Linked DNA regions of Homo sapiens. The protein of the gene in region 1 purifies or fractionates together with the protein of each later gene. This does not show direct contact. Each region holds a gene or a part of one and is shown on either strand. Other genes may lie near its edges. The genes, in order: ARL6, AMPD2 and BBS4.

Region 1 (3,142 bases):
GTGTCATACTGTCAAGCATTTGTAAACCATCTGAGACTAAGTTAAGCTGAATTTATTTATTCAGTGTATGTTGAACATCTCTACACCAACTAGTCAGACATAGTCCTAGGCAATGATGTTACGAGGTAAATAAGACATATCCTTATCTTCAGAGAACTTAAAATTTAATGAGGGATAATTTGAGAACCTTTCCATGGATAGTATCTAATTTTATTTCATTGGCTGAATGAAAATATTGCATCTTCAGATTAAGAGGTATAAAGTAAATTAATATTTGACTGTTCAGTAATCATTACTGACATCTTGTTTTTCACTTTTAAATGCCTCCAATTTACCATAGCACTTTGTTAAAATAAATTGTGACTTTTAACTTTTTCATGAACATAACTGCTACATAAATGTTCTTTAGAATTTTAGACATATCTCAGGCACACAAATTATTAGTTCTCACAAATTAGAGAACACTTATAATTGTGAACTCTAAATAGAAACCTTCATTTTAATCACTGAGCAACAGTATATAGAGCAATATTGTTGATCCTGATAAACACTGCATATAAAGAAAAACTGTAATATACAATATATACCATCTCAAGTATGCTTAGCTTTGAAAATGATGAAAATAGAAGGCAAAAGTAAGTGAGTAATAAAGATGTTATAGTAACTGCAGTAGTGGTACATGTTTCACAAAGATTTTAATAAAAGCACATAAAGCTACAATAAAAGTTCTATATTCCAGTTTCTTATAGTCCAGAAATAGCAGTGATTTGGCATTTGGCAAATTGAAAGTTACCCAGAAAATTCCAATGGCTCAGCATCTTAGCTAGTTTACCATCTCTCTTGTAAATTGTTTTAGAGGATACAAAATGAAAATCTCATTAATCTAAAGTTGCTGCAGATATAGGAAGGACATAAGGATGGAAACAATGAATGTAATTTTTTAAAAAACTGATATGCTACAACTATTTTAGGATGGAGAAAGAATTGATTGAGAATTCAAATCCTCACTCACTTACCATAAGGTAGTAATAAAATTAATAATAGTTACTACTATATGATCATTATATTATAAGCAGGTATTACACATACAGAATTTTCAACATTTAATCCTCCCAATAAGCCTATGTGGCAGGTTTTATTATTTCCATTTTATAGATCAGTAAACTGAGGCGTTAAAATGTTATGTAATTTGCCAAAGTTCAAAAAGCTGGTAAGTCTGGTACTAGGATTCAGTACCAAGCAGTCTGTTTTAAGACAGATGATTCAAGAGTATGATAGATATTAGAAATACAGATATATCTGCCAGAATAACAATTAAAATGATAGAAAAGGCTCTTACTTGGGACAGCAACCAGGACAGGGATGGTAGAGGGAAGGTCAGAGACTAGAGACTACTCTTTGCTTTTTTTGTTTTCTTTTTTTTTCTTTTAAAGCTATTAACACTACTCAAATTTTAAACTCTGGATACAAATGACTTTGATAAAAGTCCTTAAAACTATTTTGACATTAAATTATTTGGTATTCCACAAACTACAGTAGCTCATACCTATGCAAATATTTAGAAGAAGGAGAAGTACCCTTTTTCTTTGTTTTCATGATCTCCAAAATCTAGTTTTTAGTCTATAAACATCCATCCCTACTCCACATTTTCATGTAAAGATTATGTAGAAGTTGGGCAACAGTGTAGTCACAGGATGTCATATAAGTGTGAATAAGCTGAGATTATTGCATTTGTATTTAGCATATTATACAATTAAAATGTATTTTATTAAACCTGAAGCAAGTTTTCTTTCATGTCTAGACATCAGTGTGTTACAGAGTTTAATTCATTAAGCTCTGTATTTGAATATAACACCTTGTAAAAATGTTTGAAACTTATCCTCTTGTATGTTAAATATTTAAATATTTGTATATGGCCCTATTCAGCCTGTGCTTTATAAATCACAAAAGAGCTGGGTTTTATATGTTTGTTTTTTATTTCTAAGCTCTCTGCGAAAAAGTTACAAATTGTCTCCTTAAGATATTTTTTCTTTGTAATTTTTTTATATCATGTTGTGATTTCCATAAATATGTGCAGTTACTCTTGATAATACTTGTCTTATTCATTTCAGGTTGCTATAACAAAGTACCATAGACTGGGTGGCTTATAAACGACAGAAATTTATTTCTTACAGCTCTGGAGCTGGAAGTCTGAGATCAGATTACCAGCATGGTTGGGTTCTGGTGAGAGCCGTCTTGGTTGCAGACTGCCATCTTCTTGTATCCTCACATGGCCAAAAGAGGACAAGAGAACTCTCTGGAGTCTGTTTGATAAGAGCATGAATCCCATTACATCTTCACATGGCTCCTCCCAAAGACCCCACCTCCTAATATCATCACATGTCATCACATAGGGGGTTAGAATTTCAACATAGAAATTTTGGGAGAACACAAACATTCAGTCAGTTGCAATACTTAAGGCAAATTCATCTTGCTTATAACTCTGGTGCATGTGCATTAAAATACTATTGCATTGTAACTGAGTTTGTACCTATTTTCTGCTTTCTGATTATTTCCTTTGTTCATGAAAATAAATGACTGGTATTACAAGGTCACCTAAATAAATAGGTTTGTGTACGTCTGCGACTAGAGAGAAATACTACAGTGATTAAGAAATGGTTATTGTGTTTAATTGAATGTTTCAGGTTACTTAGTTATTACATTTTCATCTTTCTCCGTATGGATGCTCCTGCTCAGCTTCGCCTGCCTCAGAACCTTTATGGCTCTTTCTTCCAATCACTTGATTTCAATGCCAGATTTAGAAGCTTCATCGGCATACCATGTTAAACTGCTTTTCTGGCAATTTAGAATAAACCAAGAAAGATAAAATCTGTCTCCAAATTTCAAATCACCAAGTAATGCTAAAAGTCACCCAGGAATACTAGATATTTTGAAAATAAAATTTGATTAGAAATATAGTAGTAATGATAAACATAGCTTTTACAATGTGCCCATACTTTGTAAGCACTTTACATATATTCATTTAATTGTCATAAGAACCCTGTGAGGTATTATCTCTATTATATAGATCAAGTGTCAGTAAACTGCTAACTCATTTTTGTACTGCCTTTAATGTTTATTTTACTTTTTTTAAATTATTATA
Region 2 (3,656 bases), on another chromosome or scaffold:
TCGGGCCAAGCAAGATTTCCTGAAGACGGACAGTGACTCGGACCTACAGTGAGGAGGGCAGAGGGGCACAGGGGATGCGGAGCTGCAGCCTGCCCTTCTGCCGGCTCTAAACCCCTCCCTTGAATGCACCCCCTGCAGGCTCTACAAGGAACAGGGTGAGGGGCAGGGTGACCGGAGCCTGCGGGAGCGTGATGTGCTGGAACGGGAGTTTCAGCGGGTCACCATCTCTGGGGAGGAGAAGTGTGGGGTAAGTATGGGGTGTATGTTGGGTGAGTCGCCATCACCTATGTCTTAGTGGGTTCCCCCAGCCTGGAGAGCTGGGGGTGGGGGCTGGAAAGGGCGTTTCTCTTTCCAGCAGCTGGAGGGGCGGAGGGGCAGAGGGGCTGCCTAGGAGCCACTTGATGTGCTGGACCAGGGTGATCTGAGTGTTCCTGGGGGTCAGGGCCTGTGGGAGGTGGGGATAGTTTGGGTTCTAAGATAAGGCCTTAGGGAGGAGGTCTCTGAGTCCAAGACTGAGGAGAGTGATCGCATATCCTCATCTCCAGGTGCCGTTCACAGACCTGCTGGATGCAGCCAAGAGTGTGGTGCGGGCGCTCTTCATCCGGGAGAAGTACATGGCCCTGTCCCTGCAGAGCTTCTGCCCCACCACCCGCCGCTACCTGCAGCAGCTGGCTGAAAAGCCTCTGGAGACCCGGACCTATGAACAGGGCCCCGACACCCCTGTGTCTGCTGGTGGGACTCCCCATCTCTGCCCCATGCCATGTGCCCTAGCCTCCTGGGCTTCTCAGCCTGGTGCCTGGGCACCTCTGCCCTGCCTGCCTCTCCCTACAACCCAGGCTCATTCCAACCTCTTGGGGTACAGGGGTGGAGGTTGGGCAGGAGCTGTCTGACCTACTGGGTCTTCAACATCTCTTGCCCTCTGTGGGGCCTTTGGGTTGGGCAGTGGGTGGCTTGGAAGAGCCCTGCTCTGACTTTACCCTCCTCACCCCTGCAGATGCCCCGGTGCACCCCCCTGCGCTGGAGCAGCACCCGTATGAGCACTGTGAGCCAAGCACCATGCCTGGGGACCTGGGCTTGGGTCTGCGCATGGTGCGGGGTGTGGTGCACGTCTACACCCGCAGGGAACCCGACGAGCAGTAAGAGGGGTGTGGTGCATGTTGGGGGGATGCAGCGTGGGAGGTTGCGTTGGCTTGGGAGAGGCCACAGGGCTCGGCTTGCTCTCCTCACCCAAGCTCCCCTCCATGCCAGTTGCTCAGAGGTGGAGCTGCCATACCCTGACCTGCAGGAATTTGTGGCTGACGTCAATGTGCTGATGGCCCTGATTATCAATGGCCCCATGTGAGTCCCCTGCCATCCCAGACACTTAGCTCCCCTCCCAGCCCAGATTCTCCAGCCCCAGTTCTGCCCCAGACTCCCATCACCTGGTGTCTTGCCCTTCCTAGTTGCTGAGCCCTCGACTTCCCCGCAGTCTACTTCCCTCTTGGCAGCCTCCATCCTTACCCTCCCACCTGCTCCCTCTGATCTGCTACCCAAGCCCTCCCCAGGTGCCTCCCTTCAGGGCCTAAGTCCCTGCCTTGTTCTCCTCATGCCCAGAAAGTCATTCTGCTACCGCCGGCTGCAGTACCTGAGCTCCAAGTTCCAGATGCATGTGCTACTCAATGAGATGAAGGAGCTGGCCGCCCAGAAGAAAGTGCCACACCGAGATTTCTACAACATCCGCAAGGTGGGCCCTCACCCCGTGGCCGTCTCCATGTCCTCATCCCACACCTCTGCCCAGCCTCCCCTTCAAGGGCCAGGCCCCCCACACAGCATCCAGTACAGAGGGTCCTTTCCCATTGCACTGCCCCAGGCCCCAGACCTTCCTGGCCTCTGGTGGATCAGCAGTGCCCTGTTCCATTCCAGGTGGACACCCACATCCATGCCTCGTCCTGCATGAACCAGAAGCATCTGCTGCGCTTCATCAAGCGGGCAATGAAGCGGCACCTGGAGGAGATCGTGCACGTGGAGCAGGGCCGTGAACAGACGCTGCGGGAGGTCTTTGAGAGCATGAATCTCACGGCCTACGACCTGAGTGTGGACACGCTGGATGTGCATGCGGTCTGTGCCAGTGGCGTGGGCTGTGGGACTGAGTCAGTCAGGGGACCAGGAGTCACGGGTGACCTGAGCCTTCCCATGTCCCCCAGGACAGGAACACTTTCCATCGCTTTGACAAGTTTAATGCCAAATACAACCCTATTGGGGAGTCCGTCCTCCGAGAGATCTTCATCAAGACGGACAACAGGGTATCTGGGAAGTACTTTGCTCACATCATCAAGGTAAGGAGGCAGCCTTCCCTGCCAAGCCTCGAGCCTGAGGATCTGGGGGCTTTTAGGGGGTGAGACTCAAGGAGGGTAGGCAGATGACCCCCTGAAGAGCTCTGACTCAGCTCACCTCATGTCTGACTCAGCTCACCTCATGTCTAGGAGGTGATGTCAGACCTGGAGGAGAGCAAATACCAGAATGCAGAGCTGCGGCTCTCCATTTACGGGCGCTCGAGGGATGAGTGGGACAAGCTGGCGCGCTGGGCCGTCATGCACCGCGTGCACTCCCCCAACGTGCGCTGGCTGGTGCAGGTGCCCCGCCTCTTGTGAGTGTCCCTGGAGTGGGAGGGGAACCTGCGGGGTCATATTCAAGGGGTCAGGGCCTGCCTCCTGCCCTCCTAGGATGGCTGAGCCTCCCTTGTCCCTGCCAACCCCTCTGAGTGCAAGGAAGGGCTTCCTGGTCCCATCCATGGTCTGTCCAGCCTGGCCCACCTGGGTATCCTTGCTTTCCCAATATGGTTCAGATGCGCCCCTGCGCTCTTGGGCCAAGCTCTGACCCTTGCTGGACCGCTGGGTTTCCTCCCACTGGCCCTGACTTGCACATACCTGCATGTTGTCTCACCTGCAGTGATGTGTACCGTACCAAGGGCCAGCTGGCCAACTTCCAGGAGATGCTGGAGAACATCTTCCTGCCACTGTTCGAGGCCACTGTGCACCCTGCCAGCCACCCGGAACTGCATCTCTTCTTAGAGCACGTGAGCAGGCAGCGCAGAGCTGGGTATGGGGAGGGCAGCCGGCTTCGCATCCAGCTGCAGCTCTGGTTCTGACCCCAGGGTTCTGTATTAGGTGGATGGTTTTGACAGCGTGGATGATGAGTCCAAGCCTGAAAACCATGTCTTCAACCTGGAGAGCCCCCTGCCTGAGGCGTGGGTGGAGGAGGACAACCCACCCTATGCCTACTACCTGTACTACACCTTTGCCAACATGGCCATGTTGAACCACCTGCGCAGGTGCCTGCACCACCCTGTGTCTGCTTGCTATGCCATCTCTCGCCCAACAAACCTCACTCTTGGCACCTTGGGCCAGGGCCACTAGACCTCTGACCCACCTGTTGCCTGGACTGGATGGGTTCTTTCTCTGCCCTTGGAGCTACATCTGTCACCCCTCACAGCCAGTAATCTACCCCTGTCCCCCTTATCCCAGGCCTGCATAGTTATTGGCTGGAGGACATATGCGTGCTGGGTGGGGGTCAGGGGCTCCGGTGAGCCCAGGTGATCCCAGGCTCAGGAGCTGACACTGTCTTCATGTCCCCCAGGCAGAGGGGCTTCCACACGTTTGTGCTGAGGCCACACTGTG
Region 3 (3,656 bases), on another chromosome or scaffold:
ATCAAAACAGTGCAATGCATTACTTACCTATCTGTAGTGATGCTGGTATAAACAAACCTACTGTGCTGCCAGTCACATAGAAGTACAGCATATACAATTACATATATATAGAACTTAATACTTGATAATAAATGACTACATTACTGGTTTATGTATTTACTACGCTATACATTTTAATCTTTATTTTAGAGTGTACTCCTTCCACTTACTAAAAAAAAGAATAACTGCCTCAGGCAGATCCTTCAGGAGGTATTCCAGAAGGTATTCCTATTGTTATAGGAGATGACAGCTCCATGTATGTTATTGCCACTGAAGACCTTCCATAAGGAGGTGGAAGACAGTGATATTTATAATCTTGACTCAGTGTAGGCCTAGACCAGTGCGTGCGTGCGTGTGCGTGTGTGTGTGTGTGTGTGTGTGTGTGTGTGTGTGTCACAAAGACCTTAGATGGGTCACAAAGCTCTGAATGCCAAAAAAGACAGCAAGGACACATTCCACATGTTAGTACCACCACTGTAGTAGTGTGTGTATCGTAGTTTTTAACAAAAAAGTTTAAAAGTAAAAAAATAAAAAGTTTTAAGAATAGCATAAAGGGCCAGGTGTCGTAGCTCATGCCTATAATCCCAGCACTTTGAGAGGCTGAGGCAGGAGAACTGCTTGAGCCCAGGAGTTCAAGACCAGCCTGGGCAACAAAGTGAGACTCTGTCTCTCTACCAAAAAAAAAAAAGAAAGAAAAAGAAAAAAGCTTATAGAATAAGGACCTAAAGAAACTATTTTTGTACAAATGTACAATGTTGTTGTGTGTTTTAAGTATTACCCCAAAAGAGCCAAAAAGTTTTAAAGTTTATAAAGTAAAAAGTTATAGTAAGCTAAAGTTAATTTATCATTGTAGAAAAAATATTTTTAAATAAATTTAGTGTAGGCTAAGTGTACAGTGTTTATAAAGTCTACATTAGTATACAACATAAAGTCTACATTAGTATACAATAATGTCCTAGACCTTCACATTCACTCACCACTAACTCACCCAGAGCAACTTCCAGTCCATCCATGGTAAGTACTCTATACAGGTATACTATTTTTTATCTTTTATACCATATTTTTACAGTACCTTTTCTATGTTTAGATACACTTACCACTGTTTTACAACTGCCTACAGTATTCGGTATAACACCTGCTCATACAGGTTTGTAGCCTGGGAGCAACAGACTATATCATGTGTATAGTACACTATATCATCCATCTATGTTTGTGTAAGTACACTCCATGTAATGTTCACACAATGACAAAATTGCCTAACAACACATTTCTTAGAACATATCTCCATTGTTAAGTGGTGCATGACTGTACTTGAACTTGTTTCTTCAATTGCCTGATCTTTTTCAAGAACCTAGGAAAAGTGTATTTCTCTAGCAAGAAGACAAGAAGTATGTGTCTTACCTTGGACATAGATAGCATATTCACACAATCCCTGAGTCTCTTGAAGCTGTTCTTTGATAACAGCCTGAAAGAGGGAGAAAAATGCTTCTGAGCAGTGGTTAAGTTTCTTCAGGTGTCTTTAAGAAAAAGTGGACATGGACAGGCCAGGTGCGGTGGCTCATGCTTGTAATCCCAAAACTTTGGGAGACCAAGGCAGGCAGATTATGAGGTCAGGAGTTCAAGATCAGCCTAACCAATATGGTGAAACCCCATCTCTACTAAAAATACAAAAATTAGCCGGGCAGTAGTGGTGCGTGTCTGTAATCCCAGCTACTCAGGAGGCTGAGGAAGGAGAATCGCTTGAACCCAGGAGGCGGAGGTTGCAGTGAGCCAAGATAGCGCCACTGCACTCCAGCCTGGGCAACAGAGTGAGACTCTGTCTGAAAAAAAAAAGAAAACAAATAGTAATGAAAAAGCAGACGTGGACAAGAATCATATGTAAAAAAACCTAGAGTATTAATAATGCCTAGTAAAGTATTAGTTCATTCAGTTTCTTAAAATTTCAACTCCCTTGTTGTGATTACTTCTTCTAGAACAGGGATTTGCAAACTACAGGGCTTACAGGCCCTGTATATTTTTGTACAGCTCTCAAGCTAACAGTGGTTTTTTTATTTCTAAAGGGTTATAAAAAATAAGATAACAAATATGATGTAGAGACTGTATGTGGCCTACAAACCCTAAAATATTGTTGGCCCATTACAGAAAAAGTTTGCCAACCCCTGTCTAAAATCTAACTAGGCAAGCTAAGAAAAGTGTGATAAGATTTCCAAGTATTATCACAGATGAAAAAGAAAGAGAACCTTTCAAGATTCATACTGGTGGCCAGGCGCGGTGGCTCACGCATGTAATCCCAGCACTTTGGGTGGCCGAAGCGGGCAGATCACCTGAGGTCGGGAGTTTGAGACCAGCCTGACCAACATGGAAAAACCCCATCTCTACTAAAAACACAAAAAATTAGCCAGGCGTGGTGGCACATGCCTGTAATCCCAGCTACTCAGGAGGCTGAGGCAGGACAATCGCTTGAACCCAGGAGGCGGAGGTTGTGGTGAGCCGAGGTCACGCCATTGCACTCCACCCTTGGCGACAAGAGCAAAACTCCATCTCAAAAAAAAAAAGATTCATACTGGTATCTGCCTTCGGATCAGCGGTGTCAAAAAAAACTGGTATGGGCCGGGTGCGGTGGCTCACGCCTGTAATCCCAGCACTTTGGGAGGCTGAGGCAGGTGGATTACGAGGTCAGCAGTTTGAGACCAGCCTGACCAACATGGTGAAACTCCACCTCTACTAGAAATACAAAAAAAAAAAAAAAAATTAGCTGGGCATGGTGGCGGGCACCTGTAATCCCAGCGACTTGGGAGGCTGAGGCAGGAGAATTGCTTGAAACTGGAAAGCGGGGGTTGCAGTGAGCCGAGATTGCGCCACTGCACTCTAGCCTGGGCAATAAGAGCAAAACTCCACTTAAAAAAAGAAAAAAAAAAACTGGTATGAATCTTTGTCATACCAGTATGAATTAGTTCTGTGCATTGCCATAGGTATAAATGCCATGGGTATAAATTAAAAACCTTAGATGGGTCACAAAGCTCTGGATACCAAAAAAGATGACACCAAGGATACATTCTGCATGTTAGTACTACCACTGTCTGCCTGCAAGTTTGTAACACATATGGTATGTCACCAAAGATACAGAGAAAGGGAAATACAAATGGTTTTTAAATATACACATGATGATCAACCTTGCAGTAAGAGAGAAATTAAAAAATAAAACTCAGGGCTGGGCACGGTGGCTCACGCCTGTAATCCCAGCACTTTGGGAGGCCAAGGCGGGCAGATCACAAGGTCAGGAGTTCGAGACCAGCCTGGCCAATATGGTGAAACCCCATCTCTACTAAAAATACAAAAAATTAGCTGGGCATGGTGACACTCATCTGTAGTCCCATCTACTGGGGAGGCTGAGGCAGAAGAATTGCTTGAACCTGGGAGACAAAGGCTGCAATGAGCCAAGATCATGCCACTGCACTCCAGCCTAGGTGACAGTGAGACTCCATCTCAAAAAAAAAAAAAAAAAAAAAAAAACTCGACAAAATACCATTTTTCATCTATCCAAAGATAAAAAAGTTAATATGCTGAGTTGAACATCTGCCTCCACCAGAAGACCAACATGTCCAAGAGAGTTGTTT

Evidence for each region.
Region 2: the proteins of ARL6 (region 1) and AMPD2 purify together in Homo sapiens (affinity purification with mass spectrometry; one large-scale study listed by BioGRID and IntAct). This does not show direct contact.
Region 3: the proteins of ARL6 (region 1) and BBS4 purify together in Homo sapiens (co-immunoprecipitation; one study listed by IntAct). This does not show direct contact.

Annotation. Positions count from the first base shown.
Region 1 is NC_000003.12:97,798,592-97,801,733, forward strand, and holds the end of ARL6 (ADP-ribosylation factor-like protein 6), read left to right. Parts: 3' UTR 1-2,638; downstream 2,639-3,142. UniProt on the Homo sapiens protein: Involved in membrane protein trafficking at the base of the ciliary organelle. Mediates recruitment onto plasma membrane of the BBSome complex which would constitute a coat complex required for sorting of specific membrane proteins to the primary cilia.
Region 2 is NC_000001.11:109,626,181-109,629,836, forward strand, and holds part of AMPD2 (AMP deaminase 2), read left to right. Parts: coding exon 1-48; intron 49-138; coding exon 139-247; intron 248-545; coding exon 546-732; intron 733-994; coding exon 995-1,136; intron 1,137-1,248; coding exon 1,249-1,338; intron 1,339-1,593; coding exon 1,594-1,723; intron 1,724-1,902; coding exon 1,903-2,097; intron 2,098-2,183; coding exon 2,184-2,315; intron 2,316-2,462; coding exon 2,463-2,626; intron 2,627-2,928; coding exon 2,929-3,055; intron 3,056-3,146; coding exon 3,147-3,310; intron 3,311-3,615; coding exon 3,616-3,656. UniProt on the Homo sapiens protein: AMP deaminase plays a critical role in energy metabolism. Catalyzes the deamination of AMP to IMP and plays an important role in the purine nucleotide cycle.
Region 3 is NC_000015.10:72,710,092-72,713,747, reverse strand, and holds part of BBS4 (BBSome complex member BBS4), read right to left. Parts: intron 1,505-3,656; coding exon 1,441-1,504; intron 1-1,440.